Regions from separate parts of the Homo sapiens genome. Here region 1 is linked to region 2. A link means that fine-mapping ties the variant in region 2 to the expression of a gene that starts in the linked region. Tissue or cell type: monocytes after LPS. Region 2 holds a variant in brackets; the other region holds the start of a gene. All regions are shown on one strand. Distances are from middle to middle.

Evidence for each region.
Region 1: REST starts here. The variant in region 2 is fine-mapped to the expression of REST in monocytes after LPS (Quach 2016, PIP 0.92).

What each region holds. Positions count from the first base shown.
Region 1 is chr4:56,904,198-56,912,824 of GRCh38, forward strand. It overlaps REST (RE1 silencing transcription factor), which reads left to right and starts at 3,703. Exons shown (of 4, transcript NM_005612.5): 1 at 3,703-4,016; 2 at 6,433-7,339. The coding sequence starts at 6,442. RefSeq lists enhancers at 3,160-4,089, 5,020-5,949 and silencers at 3,186-3,480, 3,580-3,969, 4,080-4,929.
Region 2 is chr4:56,877,369-56,885,995 of GRCh38, forward strand. No RefSeq gene overlaps it. Among named protein-coding and RNA genes, the nearest start is that of REST, 26 kb to the right of the region's middle. The variant A/G (reference allele first, on the strand shown) is at 4,896.

The sequences.
Region 1 (8,627 bases), 27 kb after region 2:
AGGCAGGCTCATGCTTAACATGAGGGAAGACTGTGATGGGTACTGAACGTTGGGTACCGACATGGGTAAGGATGGTCCCCACTTTGAGAGATTGTGATACCAAGCTAGGATTTTGTAACCATTCATCTAACTAATATTTGTTGAGCAACTAACGAGTTATAGGTGCTGGGGATAAAAAAATGTCTCTGCCTTTCTGGAGCTTAAGTTCCTAAGTAGGGTAAATAAATAAAAATACCTAGCATGTTAGTAATAAATGTTAGAGACAGAAACAGCAGGGAAGGGCATTAGGATTGGACGAAAATGGGAGCAGAAACAGCAGGGAAGGGCATTAGGATTGGACGAAAATGGGAGCGGGTTCCAAATGTGATCTAGGCTCCAAAAGAAGGCAGGAAGGAGCCCAGCTCAAGTCTCAAGTTCTCTTGTTCACCTCCTTCCCTTCTCAGCATGAAGGGAAAACCTCCCTGGCTCAAGCTGTTGATGCCTATAATGAGTAAGACACTATTCCAGTTATCAGAACCAGAACAAGAGGTCAGAGTCCAACCGGCAGCAAGAGTAGATGATGCTGGCTGGACTCGGTGGCTTACACAGGTAATCCCAGCACTTTGGGAGGCCGAGGCGGGTGGATCACCTCAGGTCAGGAGTTCGAGACTAGCCTGACCAACATAGTGAAACCCCATCTCTACTAAAATACAAAAATTAGCTGGGCGTCCTAGCGGGTGCCTGTAATCTCAGCTACTCGGGAGGCTGAGGCAGGAGAATTGCTTGAACCCAGGAGGCAGAGGTTCCAGTGAGCCAAGATCTTGCCACTGCATTCTAGCCTGGGCGACAGAGCAAGACTCCCAGGCGGGGTGGCTCACACCTGTAATCCTAGCACTTTGGGAGGCCCAGGCAGGTGGATCATCTGAGGTCAAGAGTTCAAGACCAGCCTGGCCAACATGGTGAAACACCATCTCTACTAAAAATACAAAAATTAGCCAGACAAGGTGGCACGTGCCTGTAATCCTAGCTACTCGGGAGGCTGAGGCAGGAGAATCACTTGAACCCGGGAGGTGGAGGTTGCAGTGAGCCGAGATCGCACCTTTGCATTCCAGCCTGGGTGACAGAGCAAGACTCCATGTCAAAAAAAAAAATAATATATATATATATATATAATTGGCCAGGTGTGGTGGCTCACGCCTGTAATCCCAGAACTTTGGGAAGCCGAGGCAGGCGGATCACCTGAGGTTGGGAGTTCGAGACCAGCCTGACCAACATGGAGAAACCCCCGTCTCTAACTAAAAATACAAAATTAGCTTGGCGTGGTGGCACATGCCTGTAATCCCAGCTACTCGGGAGGCTGAGGCAGGAGAATTGCTTGAACCCGGGAGGCGGAGGTTGCGGTGAGCCGAGATCGTGCTATTGCACTCCAGCCTGGGCAAAAAGAGCCAAATTCTGTCTCAAAAAAAAAAAAAAAAAAAAAAAGAAAGAAATCTCTCTAGAGAAAATACTATTAAGAACATATGATAATTAAAATAAAAAAATTGATGAGTTAAATATGCAGGAAAAAAACCATATAAGAAAAGCAGAACTCATTCTCATTTCAGAGTTTTTATCTTGCAGAAGATCCTAAAGTTTGGATACAGCAAAGTAAAATACAGACTTTTGAAAAACAGTTAGGAATTCAAGTTCATAGCAACAGCTTCCCTCAAGAAAATTTTCAATTGATTTGTAATTTGGCCTATGAATTTGACCTGTGGCCTTCATGTCATGATAATTTGGGTCACTCTGAATATGCCATCCCTTGAACAAGGGCCTCTGCTAATTTTAAATGAATGCAGCTGCCCATTCGCCATTCTTCTATTTGCATCACAATATGTGGGAATAAATTTGCAATTAATAAGACATTTCCAGTAAGCAGTCAGATTGAGGAAATGAAGGACATTTAGTAAGTTTAACAAGAGACATTTCATTTTTGCCTTTTTGGACCTAAAAAAGGGAAAGAAAACAAGTTTATGTCTTTGACAACCTTGGTAGAGGCCTGAATTGTACCCTGGGCTACAGCATCTAAAAAAGCCATGTGACCTCAAACTTGATTTTAGTTAAACAAATAAAATATATATAGAAAAGTTTGTACCAGTCCTAAAAATGTCGATCTTCCTTTCCTCCCTCCCTCCCTCCCTTCCTTCCTGTCTCTTTGGTTCAATGAAAATGAATACTTTTCAGGTTTGATTCATGGAGAGGTGTTACATTTGAAATTGCCTCATTGAAACTTTTGGTGGTCGAGCACCTTAGGGTCTTCATTTCATCTTGCATCGGAGACTGCATTAATTAGTAATATATTGTCCAGATAGAGGGAAACAGAGGTCCTACGTGGGTATACCAGGAAATGAAGAGTCTGGAAGCCCTGCCCTAAGAGAAACAAATAAAGGAACTTCAAAGAGAAGGAAGTGAGGTACCCTGAGGAGAAGCTGGGATGTCTTAACAACTGCTTTGGGATTTTGAGCTTGCCCTTTTCACTGTGTAGAGTGTTCCTTGCCCTACTTTCCACCTGTTGAAGTTTTCCTCATTCTCCAAGGTCAGACTGAATACATCTACTGTGAAAAGTTTCTAGAACCTCTTGGGATCCATCTTCCTACTGGCAAACCCCCATAGCACTTGCTACTTATGTTGTAATACCAAGCAATAGTCAGACTTATCTAGGTCAAGTTAAGTAGGGGCTTGAACGCCACACTAAGGGGTTTAAGCTTTAAGCTTGTAGTCATGGGGAGCCACTATGCTTCTGAGGACAGGTGTGACTTACGACTGACGTTTAGGAAGGTATCAAAGGCAGACTGAGAAGCTCTTTCAGGTGTGAAAGGGGGTGGAATTACTCTCTCTCTGTTCTTTTTTGTTGTTTTTGTTTTTGTTAGCACATGACTATGGGCTAGGCATTCCGCTTGGTTATCCCGCTTCATAGACGTGAGCCCGGTTACTCCGACACACCGTGGCCCCAGGCAGCCTCCCCGTCCTCACCACCTTTTCTTCTGTCATCTGAGGGTAATTCCTCCCCTGCAGTCGTGCTTTCCGGGCTCAGCAATGACCTGCTACCTGCCACGTCTAGGGATCTGTCCCCTCAGTCCTCACGCTCACGCTTTCTGAGTCCATAACCTCCTTCCTGAAACGTTTTCTTCTCACTTCTCCCAAACTGACTGCATTCCCCCTCCGGTAGTTTGAAATTTGGAAGACTTTTTTTTTTTTTTTTTTTTTTTACCGCAGACGCTTAAAACGAAGCTTAATTAGTCAAGGACAGCTATGGGTGGAGACTTGAAGAGATCTGAAGGGTATCTTGGAGCGCTTTAGACTTGAGAGGCCGGTGACAATAGCTCTAAAGAGACCCGTCAAAGCCTGCGGATTCTTCTTTTAACAGCTCTATTCTCATGCATGCACGCCAGGGCTGGGGGGAACTTTTGTTGTTTGTTTGTAATAGAAATCGAGAAAGGGAGTGGGGCCCGCCTCTTTTCTGACCTAAGGGCAGGAGTGAGGGGCCGGGAGGATTACGGGCGGCTCCCCCTAGACGCGCCCCCAGGCGAGCTGGAGACTGGGGCACTCCTTGCTTGGTAGAGGGGCGGGGCGCGCCTAGCGGCCACGCGCGCGGGCGTCGGAGGGGGCGTGTCTCGCGGGCGCGCGCGGGCGTCGGAGGGGGCGTGTCCCGCGGGCGGTGGCGGCGGCGGCGGCGCGGACTGGGTGCGCGGCGCAGCGTCCTGTGTTGGAATGTGCGGCTGCCGCGAGCTCGCGGCGCAGCAGCGGAGCGAGCGCCGCCGAGGCCCGGGGCCCCAGACCCTGGCGGCGGCTGCCGCAGCCGAGACGGCAGGGCGAGGCCCGGAGGCCTGAGCACCCTCTGCAGCCCCACTCCTGGGCCTTCTTGGTCCACGACGGCCCCAGCACCCAACTTTACCACCCTCCCCCACCTCTCCCCCGAAACTCCAGCAACAAAGAAAAGTAGTCGGAGAAGGAGCGGCGACTCAGGGTCGCCCGCCCCTCCTCACCGAGGAAGGCCGGTAAGTGGGGCGCTGGGCTGGGGGCTCGGTCAGGGTGGGGGAGGGCCGCCCGGGCGGCGGCAGTGGCGGGACGGGGAGGGCGCGGAAGGACGCGGAGTCAGGCGCTGTCCAGGGCTGATTTGCAGATACTGTGGCTCCGGCGGCGGCGGCCCCGCCGGGCGGGGGCTGGCGGCCGAGCAGGATCGGGTTACACAGCAGCCGCCCGGGGGCTGGGGGCGTTTGTTGGGAGCAGCGCGTCGCCTGGACCCCCTCCCCACTGGAGGCTGGGACGCCGCCTCCGCGCTGGCCCGGACGCTCCACCGAGTCAGGTCCTTTGAGGCCAAGGAGCGGAGCTGCTCGGGCCCGTAGTCCTGAAACTTCCTCTGCTTCCTCCTCCTGCCCCCGGGTCCCACCGCAGCCCCGCGCCGGCCCGCGGCCCTCCTGGCCCCCTCCCCCAGGGCCTCTCCCTGTCGCCGGAAGGCGCCGTTGAGTGCGGCCGGGCGGGTTGAGTCAGCCCCGGGGCCCGGGCGGTTCCGCCTGCGGGGCTGGACAGCGATTTCTGCGCTTCAGCCGTCCGGCGCCGCTGGCCCCCGCGTCCGGCCACCCGACCGCTGGAGCTGGCGGGGCTGGGGCGCGCGTCCTGCCGGGCGCCGTGGGGGAGTGAAGTTCGCAAACTTCCGGGGCGCGGGGGTGGCGGCTGGCCCGTGTGGGGGCCCCCTCCGGCGCTCGGAGCCCGACGCCTCGCGAGGGCGCCCGCGGAGCCTCCCCGGCCCTGGGCGTTGGGCGAGCCCCGGGGCGGTCGGAGGGGCCCGGGGGCGGTCGGAGAAGCCCGGACGCCGGCTGCGCGGTAACTTTCCGTCCTCTCCCGGGACGGGGGCCCTAGGGCTGGGGAGGGGGCTGCCTGGACTCGGGGAGGACTGGTTCCGGCCAAACAGCGCCTCGAGCTTGATCCCCTCCCCCGTTTTAGTGTTGGAGAGCGCAGGAAAAGGCTCAGGACGAGTGTCGGGGCGACTCCCGCGAGTTGGTGTGTAAATGTGTGCAGTGAGCGGGCCGAGGCGAGAGGAAGCGAGAGCGCCCGAGTTTGCAAAGAGCTGCTTTGTGTTTGGTATTTTGAGAAAATGGCCGAATGCCTATTTCAGTTAGGAATGCCGCCGCCGAGGCAGGCGCTGGTGGCAGCAGCACGGAGGAATTCGTGCAGCACGTTGGGCTTTCGGGCTGTGCCTGGACGGTCTTCCTAACAATCGTTAAAATTCCATTTGGGGTGGCAGTTAGGGGTTAGGGAGCAATTAGAAAAGTCGATGTTGGGCCAAATTACCCAATAGCTTGGGCTGTTCAGCCCCGGGACAGCCTTCGCCCTCTGTTTTCTGTGATGGCATTTGCTTCCAACTTTTGTTGGTACGTAGAACTAAACCGGTTTGTGTTTATACACTTGGGTGAAGCGGGTTACTTTTTGTATTTTCGGTTTAACTTTATTTTCTTAGAACTTCTTACTTTTTTTAATTTGCGAGTGAACACTTCGTTTGAGAATGGCACCTTTTAGATTGAGAAGTAACGTAGCATCTAGAAAGCCCAACTTGTTTTGAAGAAGGTGATCTTGTAATGGCTTCCACTAGGCAAGTAGGCCAAGTCAAGCACAATGCAAGAAAGTTGCTGATTGTCGAGTTGAGTTGCACGATGATTTTATTCGTATTGAAAAGCTTGGAATTCAGTGTTGTGGAACTTCAGCCTGCAGAAAAATAAGCTTATTAATTTTTATTTGTGAAGTTTTGAATAAATCAAACTTCCTTTTTCACAAGAAAAGGGGTCCATAAATGTTTTTTCTTTTAAGCCTGTGGAGTTGTCGAAAAATTAAGGGGCTGACTGCTACTTTTTCACAGTAGTTTATTCTTTTGGAGTTAGTTGAGTTCATGCGAAATCCAATTAAGTTGAACAATTATTACAGGCTTGTACTTTCCAGATGTGTTTGTGTACTTAATAAATGCACTGAATGGCTTGTGGATTTCTGGGCTTTCTGATTCAGACCATTGAACTGTTGAAGGGGGGAAAAGTTGGGAGGACAATAATTTACTACTCATGTTTTGAATTTTTAAAATAATTTTAACAGTAAAAATGAAGGTTACTTTTTATCCCCACCAGAACAATTAAAAGTGCTTGAGGAGGCACCACATGCCAGTGGCTGAATGATGAATGAGTTGTGCAAACAATTGGTAGAATTGTTTTATAGGGATAGTAGAAATTTTTTTTTGGTGATTGCAGTAGACTATTGGGAATTAACAACTATTTTAAAGATTTGTTTTTAATAGGCGATGAAGTTTACTGAGTTATAAAGATCATACTGGAAAATTTTTAAGTTATGAAGAATTACAGCGATGTGGTTTTAAGCCAGTAACAGTAGTGTTTAAACTGGTGCTCTTGTTTTGTTTTGTTTTTAATTCAGAATACAGTTATGGCCACCCAGGTAATGGGGCAGTCTTCTGGAGGAGGAGGGCTGTTTACCAGCAGTGGCAACATTGGAATGGCCCTGCCTAACGACATGTATGACTTGCATGACCTTTCCAAAGCTGAACTGGCCGCACCTCAGCTTATTATGCTGGCAAATGTGGCCTTAACTGGGGAAGTAAATGGCAGCTGCTGTGATTACCTGGTCGGTGAAGAAAGACAGATGGCAGAACTGATGCCGGTTGGGGATAACAACTTTTCAGATAGTGAAGAAGGAGAAGGACTTGAAGAGTCTGCTGATATAAAAGGTGAACCTCATGGACTGGAAAACATGGAACTGAGAAGTTTGGAACTCAGCGTCGTAGAACCTCAGCCTGTATTTGAGGCATCAGGTGCTCCAGATATTTACAGTTCAAATAAAGATCTTCCCCCTGAAACACCTGGAGCGGAGGACAAAGGCAAGAGCTCGAAGACCAAACCCTTTCGCTGTAAGCCATGCCAATATGAAGCAGAATCTGAAGAACAGTTTGTGCATCACATCAGAGTTCACAGTGCTAAGAAATTTTTTGTGGAAGAGAGTGCAGAGAAGCAGGCAAAAGCCAGGGAATCTGGCTCTTCCACTGCAGAAGAGGGAGATTTCTCCAAGGGCCCCATTCGCTGTGACCGCTGCGGCTACAATACTAATCGATATGATCACTATACAGCACACCTGAAACACCACACCAGAGCTGGGGATAATGAGCGAGTCTACAAGTGTATCATTTGCACATACACAACAGTGAGCGAGTATCACTGGAGGAAACATTTAAGAAACCATTTTCCAAGGAAAGTATACACATGTGGAAAATGCAACTATTTTTCAGACAGAAAAAACAATTATGTTCAGCATGTTAGAACTCATACAGGTAAGAGAAGCTTTCTAGTCCATAAGTTCAGTTCTCTTTTCTGATTGTTACTTGAGTGGTTAGTTAAGTAGTGCTTGAGAAAAAGGACTCTGGTTCAAATCCAGGTTCCATTTTGCTATCTTTGTGACCTTGCACAAGTTGTTTAACCTCTTTGTTCAGAAATTTCTCCATGGAGTAACAATATCTAGGTTGGGAGGATTATGTGAAGTTACATGTAAAGCACAGAGGAACAGCCAAGAGATCTTACCGTGGTCTTACTAAAGTACATATCCTAACTTGGGGTTTACCTTCAGCAAGTTAGACTGGCCGTGCATGGTGGCTCACGCCTGTAATCCCAGCACCTCGGGAGGCCGAGGCGTAAGGACTGCCTGAGCCCAGAAGTTCTAGACCAGTCTGGGAAACGTGGAAAGACCCCCGTCTCAAAAAGAAAACAGAAAAAAAAAAGTTTGTGTATTTATTTCTGTGACAGTGAACACATTTAAGATGCAGTGTAGTTTCTGAAAGAAATTGAGGGCTTATATAAAAAGGAAAACTCAGTGATTAACCTTGCACATGCCCACTTAACAAAAGCCTCAAACTTTAAAACATTTGACTTATAGCATTGAGTTCCTAAATGGAACAACTTGTCTTTGTCCACAAAAAAGAAATGTGAGAAGGTAGTTTTTAAAAGGTGGGTGGGATTATCACCAATTGAAACTATTTTCCTATGAAAGCAAACACTTGTAGAAAATGTATTTTTCAGACAATTATGTTTAGGGTGTTTGAACTGATACTAAGCGCAACTGTATAAAAAAAGTTGAAACTTTTTTTTTTTTTTTTTTTTTGAGACAGTCTGGCTTTGTCGCCCAGGCTGGAGTGCAGTGGCAAGATCTCAGCTCAGTGTAACCTCTGCCTCAGGGTTCAAGTGATTATCTTGCTTCAGCCTCCCTGGCTCAGCCTCCCGAGTAGCTGGGATTACAGGCACCCACCACCGTGCCTGGCTAATTTTTTTTTTTTGAGACGGAGTCTGGCTCTGTTGTCGAGGCTGGAGTGCAGTGGCATGGTCTTGGCTCACTGCAACCTCTGTCTCCCAGGTTCAAGCAGTTCTCCTGCCTCAGCCTCCTGAGTGGCTGGGACTATAGGTGCCCACCACCACACCCAGCTGATTTTGTATTTTTAGTAGAGATGGGGTTTCACCATGTTGCCCAGGCTGGTCTTGAACTCCTGACCTCGTGATCCGCCCACCTCAGCCTCCCAGAATGCTGGGATTACAGGCGTGAGTGCCACCCCTGGCTAATTTTTGTATTTT
Region 2 (8,627 bases):
CCATGCTGGTCAAACTGGTCTCAAACTCCTGACCTCAGGTGATATGCCCGCCTCGGCCTCCCAAAGTGCTGGGATTACAGGCGTGAGCCACCGCGGCCGGTCTCACTATTTGAAAATATGCAATAAATTGTTGTTAATTACAGTCCCCCTGTAGTGCTATAGAACACTGTAACTTATTCCTCCTATCTAGCTGTGCTTTTGCCTCCAGGAACCAACCTTTGGCTATTCCTCCCTTCCTATCCCCCTTCCCCAGGTGTAATAACTACTATTCTGCAACCTATTTTTTTTTTTGTTTTTGTTATTGTTGTTGTTTGAGACAGAGTCTCCCTCTCTCACCCAGGCTGCAGTGTAGTGGCCCAATGTAAGCTCACTGCAACCTCTACTTCCCAGGCTCAAGTGATTCTCAAGCTTCAGCCTCTCAAGTGGCTGGGACTACAGGCACATGCCACTATGCCTGGCTAATTTTTTGTATTTTTAGGAGAGATGGGGTTTCACCATGTTGGCCAAGCTGCTCTGGAACTCCTGGCTTCAACTCCCCCTTGGCCTCCCAAAGTGCTGGGATCACAGGCATGAGCCATCACACCCAGCCTCTACTCCCTACTTCTATGAGATCAACTACCCCCACCCCCGCGATGGAGTCTCACTCTGTCGCCCAGGCTGGAGTGCAGCGGCATGATCTCGGCTCACTGCAACCTCTGCCTCCCGGGTTTAAGTGATTCTCCTGCCTCAGCCTCCTGAGTAGCTGGGACTACAAGCTCACACCACCACGCCCAGCTATTTTTTGTATTTTTAGTAGAGACAGGGTTTCACCATTTTGGCCAAACTGGTCTCGAACTCCTGACCTCGTGATCCACCCGCCTCAACCTCCCAAAGTGGTGGGATTACAGGCATGAGCCACTGTGCCCAGCCCGAGATCAACTTTTTTGGCTTCCATGTATGAGTGAGAACATAGGGTATTTATTTTTCTGTGACTGGCTTATTTCATTTAAGTCCATTTTATTTCGACTTTCAGTTCAAGATGACCTTAAACTTGCTAGCAGACAAATTTTCAGTGATTATTCTCTAATGGATGGCACCTGACTACAGGCCAAATAAGTCAGGGAAAATATCAAGTAGGAATCTCTAAACATTCTTAAAGGGTCACCCCACCCCTCCCTACAGATACTGCTCTGCATTTGAGGCTTATGGATGGATTTCCTCCACAAAGTCACTGTTGCCTCTCCTGTAGGCCTATTCTGACCCAGCCTGCATTAAGCACCCCTTTCATGGGTCTCCTCAGATGTCATGCATTCTTTTCCCCCCAGCACTTCTAGAGATGCGTTTTCATCTTCCCACTGACTTATCAGTCTGTACTCTCCACTAAATTGTGAGCTTCTTTTTATCCCTAAGGCCTAGCAGGGAATTAGTCATGTGTCCACAAATATTTATTTGAATGGCTATTCTGTGCCAGGCACTGTGCTAGGTGCTGGAGTTGTAATGGTGACCAAAACAGCAAATACTGACATTATGGGATTTACAGTCTGTTAGGGGAATCAGTCATTAAAATAATACACAAATAACTAATTAATTAAGATGGTGCTTAGGGCCACTTAATCCAAGTACTGGGGGCTAACAGAGCATATATAGCTTTAGCAGGACTTGGTTGAGTTCAGATGAATGCTTCCTGGAGGATATGACATTTAAGCTGATTTCTGAAAAATGAAAGCAAGTTGCCCAAGCAAAGTGTGTCTGTGGTGAAATGGGGATAGGTGGGGTGCTGAGACCCAGAAGAACCCTTCAAGTAGTTGGAACAGCACACAGAAGGAGGCTGAAGCTGGAAGTGGTCAGTGTGGCTGAGCTGCTAAGAGAGGTCAAGATCAGGCAGTTCCTCATAGGCTTGTTAAGCAGTTCAAACATTGCTTTAAAAGAAATGTGGGCCTGCCAGGTGCGGTGGCTCACGCCTGTAACCCCAGCACTATGGGAGGCCAGGTGGGCAGATCATGAGGTCAGGAGTTCAAGACCAGCCTGGACAACATAGTGAAACCCCCATCTCTACTAAAAATACAAAAGTTAGGTGGGTGTGGTGGCACGCGCCTGTAGTTCCAGCTGCTTGGGAAGCTGAGGCTGAAGAATCGCTTGAACCTGGGAGGTGGAGGTTGCAGTGAGCCAAGACCGTGCCATTGCACTCTAGCCTGGGCAACAGAGCGAGACTCCATCTCAAAAAAAAAGAAAAAAAGAAAAGAAATGTGGACCGGGCGTGGTGGCTCATGCCTGCAATCCCAGCACTTTGGGAGGCCGAGGTGGGCGGATCACCTGAGGTCAGGAGTTCGAGACCAGCCTGGCTATCATGGTGAAAACCCGTTTCTACTAAAAATACAAAAAATTAGCAAGGCGTGATGGTGGCGTGTGCCTGTAATCCCAGCTACTCGGGAGGCTGAGGCAGGAGAATCACTGGAATGCAGGAGGTGGAGGTTGCAGTGAGCCGAGCTCGTGCCGTTGCACTCCAGCTTGGGCAACAAGAGTGAAGCTCTGTCTCAAAAAAAAAAAAAAAAAAGAAAGAAAGAAAGAAATGTGAAAGCACTGAGGAGATTTTAGCAGCGAATGATGTGATCAGATGATGAGATTTGGATTTCTGAAAGTTGATCTTTCTTAGGCTGCTAGAAGAAGAATGGAATGTAGAGAAGCAGGAATGGGCAAAGGGAGATTAGCTAAGGCAAGAGATAATGGTGGCTTCATGAGTGTATGTGGAGTGAATGAGAACCAAAGTGTAGGATGCAAGGCCTGGAAAGTCCCCAGAAATCCCATCTCAGTTAACTAGGAAACTGAGTCCCAGAGTGGAACCATAAATGACTCAGTGCATTACAGTTCATTCACAGCACAGTTAGGACTACAAACCAGTCGTGCACTTTGTGTCTTTTCCTCTTTTTTCGTGGACCTTCCCATGTGACTCAGCTAGTTTTTGAATTAAAAAAAAAAGCAGTGCTTTACCAAGTGATGGATATATAAAGTTCACTACACTATTCTCTCTACGTTGATATGTTTGAAAATGTCAATAGTAATCAGGTTTATAAGAAGCAACACTTTAAAACTGTTGTGGCATAGGTGCTAACTCAAGGCCTTCCAAACAGTTTGGGAAAGGAAAGAGGTCCAGGGCTTCTTGGCACTCACATCCTTACATGGCACTCAATAATCTGCATCTTGACTCAGCTGGGCTGTGTTTGGACCTATTGCCACAGTCATACACAATGCCAGATTGTTGGACTCCATGACACTTGCCTTGGAAGTGCACAGAACCTCTCTTTGGATCTTCTATAAAATGGGAGTCCATGCCTATGACACAAAGAATGTTGTGAGACTGAAGTGAGTATTTATAAGTCCCTGTCTGCCCCCCATTCCCCGATCAAATGAATGTTATTTCACAGAAACTTTCCTTGAAATTGGGTAATGTCACCACAGCTGTCTGCATAAACCACCAAGAGTGACCACATAGTTGTGGGGTTTTTTTGTTTTTTTTGTTTTTTTGGACAGAGTTTCGTACTTTTTGCCCAGACTGGACTGCAATGGTGCGATCTCAGCTCACCACAACCTCCGCCTCCCGGGTTCAAGGGGTTCTCCTGCCTCAGCCTCCCGAGTAGCTGGGATTATAGACATGTGCCACCATGCCCGGCTAATTTTGTATTTTTAGTAGTGACGGGGTTTCTCCATGTTGATCAGGCTGGTCTCGAACTCCCCACTTCAGGTGATCTGCCCACCTTGGCCTCCCAAAGTGCTGGGATTACAGGTGTGAGCCACCGTGCCTGGCTTTTTTTCTTTTTTTTTTTTTTTTGAGACAGAGTCTCTTTCTGTCACTCAAACTGGAGTGCAGTGGCATGATCTCGGCTCACTGCAACTTCCATCTCCTGGACTCAAGTGATTCTCATGCCTCAGCCTCCCAAGTAGCTGGGATTACAGGTGGCGCCACCATACCCAGCTAATTTTTGTATTTTTAGTAGAGACGGGGGTTCACCATGTTGGCCAGGCTGGCATAGTTGTCTATACATGATTTATATTACATGTTAACCTTAAAGAGAGTCTGTGTTTTTATTTTTATTTTTATTTAATTCAGGGATTGTTATTCGTGCTAAACCCTCACAACATAGAAAGCAAAGGTGACAATTTACAGTTGCTAAAACAGTGATGTGGAAGGTGGAGATTTGCTTTCGATCTGAAGTCTCTGGGTCTTGGAGGCTGGTGGTGGACAGTTAAAAAAACTAATCAGCTTTAGGCCGAGCGTGGTGGCTCACGCCTGTAATCCCAGCACTTTGGCAGGCCAAGGCAGGTGGATCACGAGGTCAGGAGATCAAGACCATCCTGGATAACACGGTGAAATGCCATCTCTACTAAAAATATAAAAAAATTAGCTGGGCATGGTGGTGGGCACCTGTAGTCCCAACTACTCGGGGGGCTGAGGCAGGAGAATGGCGTGAACCCGGGAGGCGGAGCTTGCAGTGAGCCGAGATCGCGCCACTGCACTCCAGCCTAGGAAACAGAGCGAGACTCCATCTCAGAAAAAATAAATAAATAAAAATTAATTAGCTTATTTTCAAGTGGCTGGTTGGCCTTCTTTAGAGAATGTGCTCAAGGAGGAGCTCTTCCAATAGAACCCTCAATTTTATCCTCTTCCCAATCTTTCTACTCCACATAGACGCTCTGGTATACAGAAGACATTTGACTAGTCACCTCTCCATTTCCTCTCCTTTAACACGTCCTTTTTATTCCAATCTTAAACCGGTGAGGGCAGATTCAAGGGGCAAATCTGGCATGTTACAACTACATAATAGTTGTTGAGGCCGGGGTGGCTCACGCTTGTAATCCCAGCACTTTGGGAGACCGAGGCGGGCGGATCACGAGGTCAGGAAATCGAGACCTTCCTGGCT[A/G]ACACAGTGAAACGCCATCTCTACTAAAAATACAAAAAGAAATCAGCTGGGCGTGGTGGCCGGCACCTGTAGTCCCAGCTACTCCAGAGGCTGAGGCAGAAGAATGGCGTGAACCCGGGAGACGGAGCTTGCAGTGAGCCGAGATCGCCCCACTGCACTCCAGCCTGGGCGATAGAGCAAGACTCTGTCTCAAAAAAAAAAAAAAAAAAAAAAGTTGTTGAGCGAATGAAGCAATGAGTAAGCAAATGTGAGCTCTATAATTTTTTTTTTTTTTTTTTTTTTTTTGAGACGGAGTCTCGCTTTTGTCTCCCAGGCTGCAGTGCAATTGCGTGATCTCGGCTTACTGCAACCTCCGCCTCCCAGGCTCAAGCGATTCTCCTGTCGCAGCCTCTAAGTAGCTGGGATTACAGGCATCCACCACCACACCCAGCTAATTTTTTGTATTTTTAGTAGAGACAGGGTTTCATGATGTTGACCTTGACCTTGCTTGGTCTTTTTTTCTTTTTTTTTTTTTGAGAGGAAGTCTCATTATGATGCCCTAGGCTGATCTGGAACTCTTGGGCTCAAGTGATCCTCCAGCCTCAGCCTCGCAAAGTGCTGAGATTACAGGCATGTGCAACCGCACCCAGGCTGCGACAATCATTTCTAAGTGAATCAAACATGTCTACAGGATTACAAGAATTTATGAAAATGTTAGAACCTGAAAGTTGTTTATTTTGGTGGCTCCAAAATTTGAAAGGTAAACTGTAAGACAGAAATTAGTAAAGATTTAATAAAATGTCTATAAAATACATTATGTCAGCTAACTTAGTCATAGATTTAGCATTTATAAAAATGTCATTATATTTCAGAAAAAAAAGTTACACTTTCCCACTTCCAAGATATCCTAAATAGGTAGAACAATTATTGAGAAATTATTGCTGGTAAATTAAAGAAGTTACTTATAGCCAAGTATTTTTAATAGAAAAAGATGTTACATTATTGCAAATAAATAAATATATTTGTATACTATGTATGTATATGTATATATATTTTATGTGGGTGGGTGCATTTGAAAATGATTGGTAGGATCTTCAAAATTAAGACAGCTGGGGGCCTAGGAGGCCTAGGCAGGTCTCTCACAGAATGCCTTAGCAGTGACATAGGTTGGTTACATATACTATGGGAAAAAAAAGAAAAAATAGATCAAGACTGCAGTGAGCCATGTCCACAACACTGCACTCCAGCCTGTCCAGCATTGTGACAGAGTGAGACCCTATCTCAAAAAAAAAAAAAAAAGATGTTATGATCTTAGCCGGCCAACCTCAACTTCTCACATATGTAATCACAGCACATTGGAAGGCCAAAGTGGGAGGATTACTTGAGGCCAGGAGTTCCAGACCAGCCTGGGAAATAAAGCGAGAACCCCTCTCTACAAAAAATTAAAAAATTAGCTCAACTGGGCACGGTGGTTCACTCCTGTAATTCCAGAACTTTGGGAGGCTGAGGCAGATGGATCACAGGGTCAAGAGTTCGAGACCAGCCTAACCAACATGATGAAACCCTGTCTCTACTAAAAATATAAAAAAGAATTAGCTGGGTGTGGTGGCGCATGCCTGTAATCCCAGCCACTCAGGAGGCTGAGGCAGGAGAATCACTTAAACCCCGGAGGTGGAGGTTGCAGTGAGCCAAGATCGTGCCACTGCACTCCATCCTGGGCAGTGGAGGGAGACTCTGTCTCAAAACAAACAAACAAACAAACAAAAAACTTAGCTAAGCATGATGGGGTGGCTCATTCCTGTATTCCTAGATACTAGGGAGGCAGAAGGATTGCTTGAGTCTAGGTGTTCGAGGCTGCAGTGAGCCATGATTGTGCCACTGCACTGAGCTTGGGTGACAGAGCAAGAGACTGTCTCAAAAAAAATTTTTTTAGCCAAATAAATAAATAAAATAATTATACTTATTATAATAAAAAGTTCAGACAGTCTCCAGTCTGGGCAACAGAGTGAGACTCTGTCTCAAAAAAAAAAAAAGGTTCAGACAGTAAGAAAAGTATTATTTGAAAGTAGAAGTCTAGTGGGTTCCAAGATGGCCAAATAGGAAAAGCTCTGGTCTACAGCTCCCGCATGATCGATGCAGAAGACGGGTGATTTCTGCATTTCCAATTGAGGTACCTGGTTCATCTCATTGGGACTGGTTGGACAGTGGGTACAGCCCAAGGAGGGTGAGTCAAAGCAGGGTGGGGCATTGCCTCACTTGGGAAGTGCAAGGGGTTGGGGGATTTCCCTTTCCTGCCAAGGGAAGCCATGACAGACTGTACCTGGAAAAACAGGACACTCCTACCAAAATACTGCACTTTTCCCAAGGTCTTAGCAACCTGCAGTCAAGGAGATTCCCCACACCCACAAAGACTTGCTCACTGCTAGCACAGCAGTCTGAGATCAAACTTCAAGGTGGCAGCCTGGCTGGGGGAGGGGCGTCCGCCATTGCTGAGGCTTGAGTAGGTAAACAAAGCGGCTGAGAAGCTCAAACTGAGTGGAGCCCACCACAGCTCAGCAAAGCCTACTGTCTCTATAGACTCCACCTCTGTGGGCAGGGCATAGCTGAACAAAAGGCAGCAAACAACTTCTGGAGACTTAAACATCCCTGTCTCACAGCTCTGAAGAGAGCAGTCATTCTCCCAGCACGGCGTTTGAGCTCTGAGAACAGACAGATTGCCTCCTCAAGTGGGTCCCTGACCCCCGTGTAGCCTAAGTGGGAGACACCTCCCAGTAGGGGCTGACAAACACCTCATATAGGCGGATGCCCCTCTGGGACGAAGCTTCCAGAGGAAGGATCAGGCAGCAATATTTGCTGTTCTGCAGCCTCCGCTGGTGATAATAACCAGGCAAACAGGTTCTGGAGCGGACCTCCAGCAAACTCCAACAGACTTGCAGCTGAGGGACCTGACTATTAGAAGGAAAACTAACAAACAAAAAGGAATAGCATCAACATCAACAAAAAGGATATCTACACCAAAACCCCATCTGTAGGTCACCAACATCAAACACCAAAGGTAGATAAAACCACAAAGATGGGGAGAAACCAGAGCAGAAAAGCTGAAAATTCTAAAAACCAGAGCGCCTCTTTTCTTCCAAAGGATTGCAGCTCCTCGCCAGCAATGGAAGAAAGCTGGACAGAGAATGACTTTGACGAGTTGACAGAAGTAGGCTTCAGAAGGTCAGTAATAACAAACTTCTCTGAGCTAAAGGAGCATATTCTAACCCATTGCAAGGAAGCTAAAAACCTTGAAAAAGCCGGGTGCGGTGGCTCACGCCTGTAATCCCAGCACTTTGGGAGGCCGAGGCGGGTGGATCATGAGGTCAGGAGATCGAGACCATCCTGGTTAACACGATGAAACCCCGTCTCTACTAAAAATACAAAAAAATTAGCCGGGCGTGATGGTGGGCGCCTGTAGTCCCAGCTACTCGGGAGGCTGAGGCAGGAGAATGGCGTGAACCCGGGAGGCTGAGCTTGCAGTGAGCCGAGATCGCGCCACGGCACTCCAGCCTGGGTGACAGAGCGAGACTCCGTCTCAAAAAAAAAACCTTGAAAAAGGGTTAGATGAATGGCTGACTAGAATAAACAGTGTAGAGAAGACCTTAAATGACCTGATGAAGCTGAAAACCATGGCACAAGAACTTCGTGATGCATGCACAAGCTTCAATAGCTGAATCAATCAAGTGGAAGAAAGGGTATCAGTGATTGAAGATC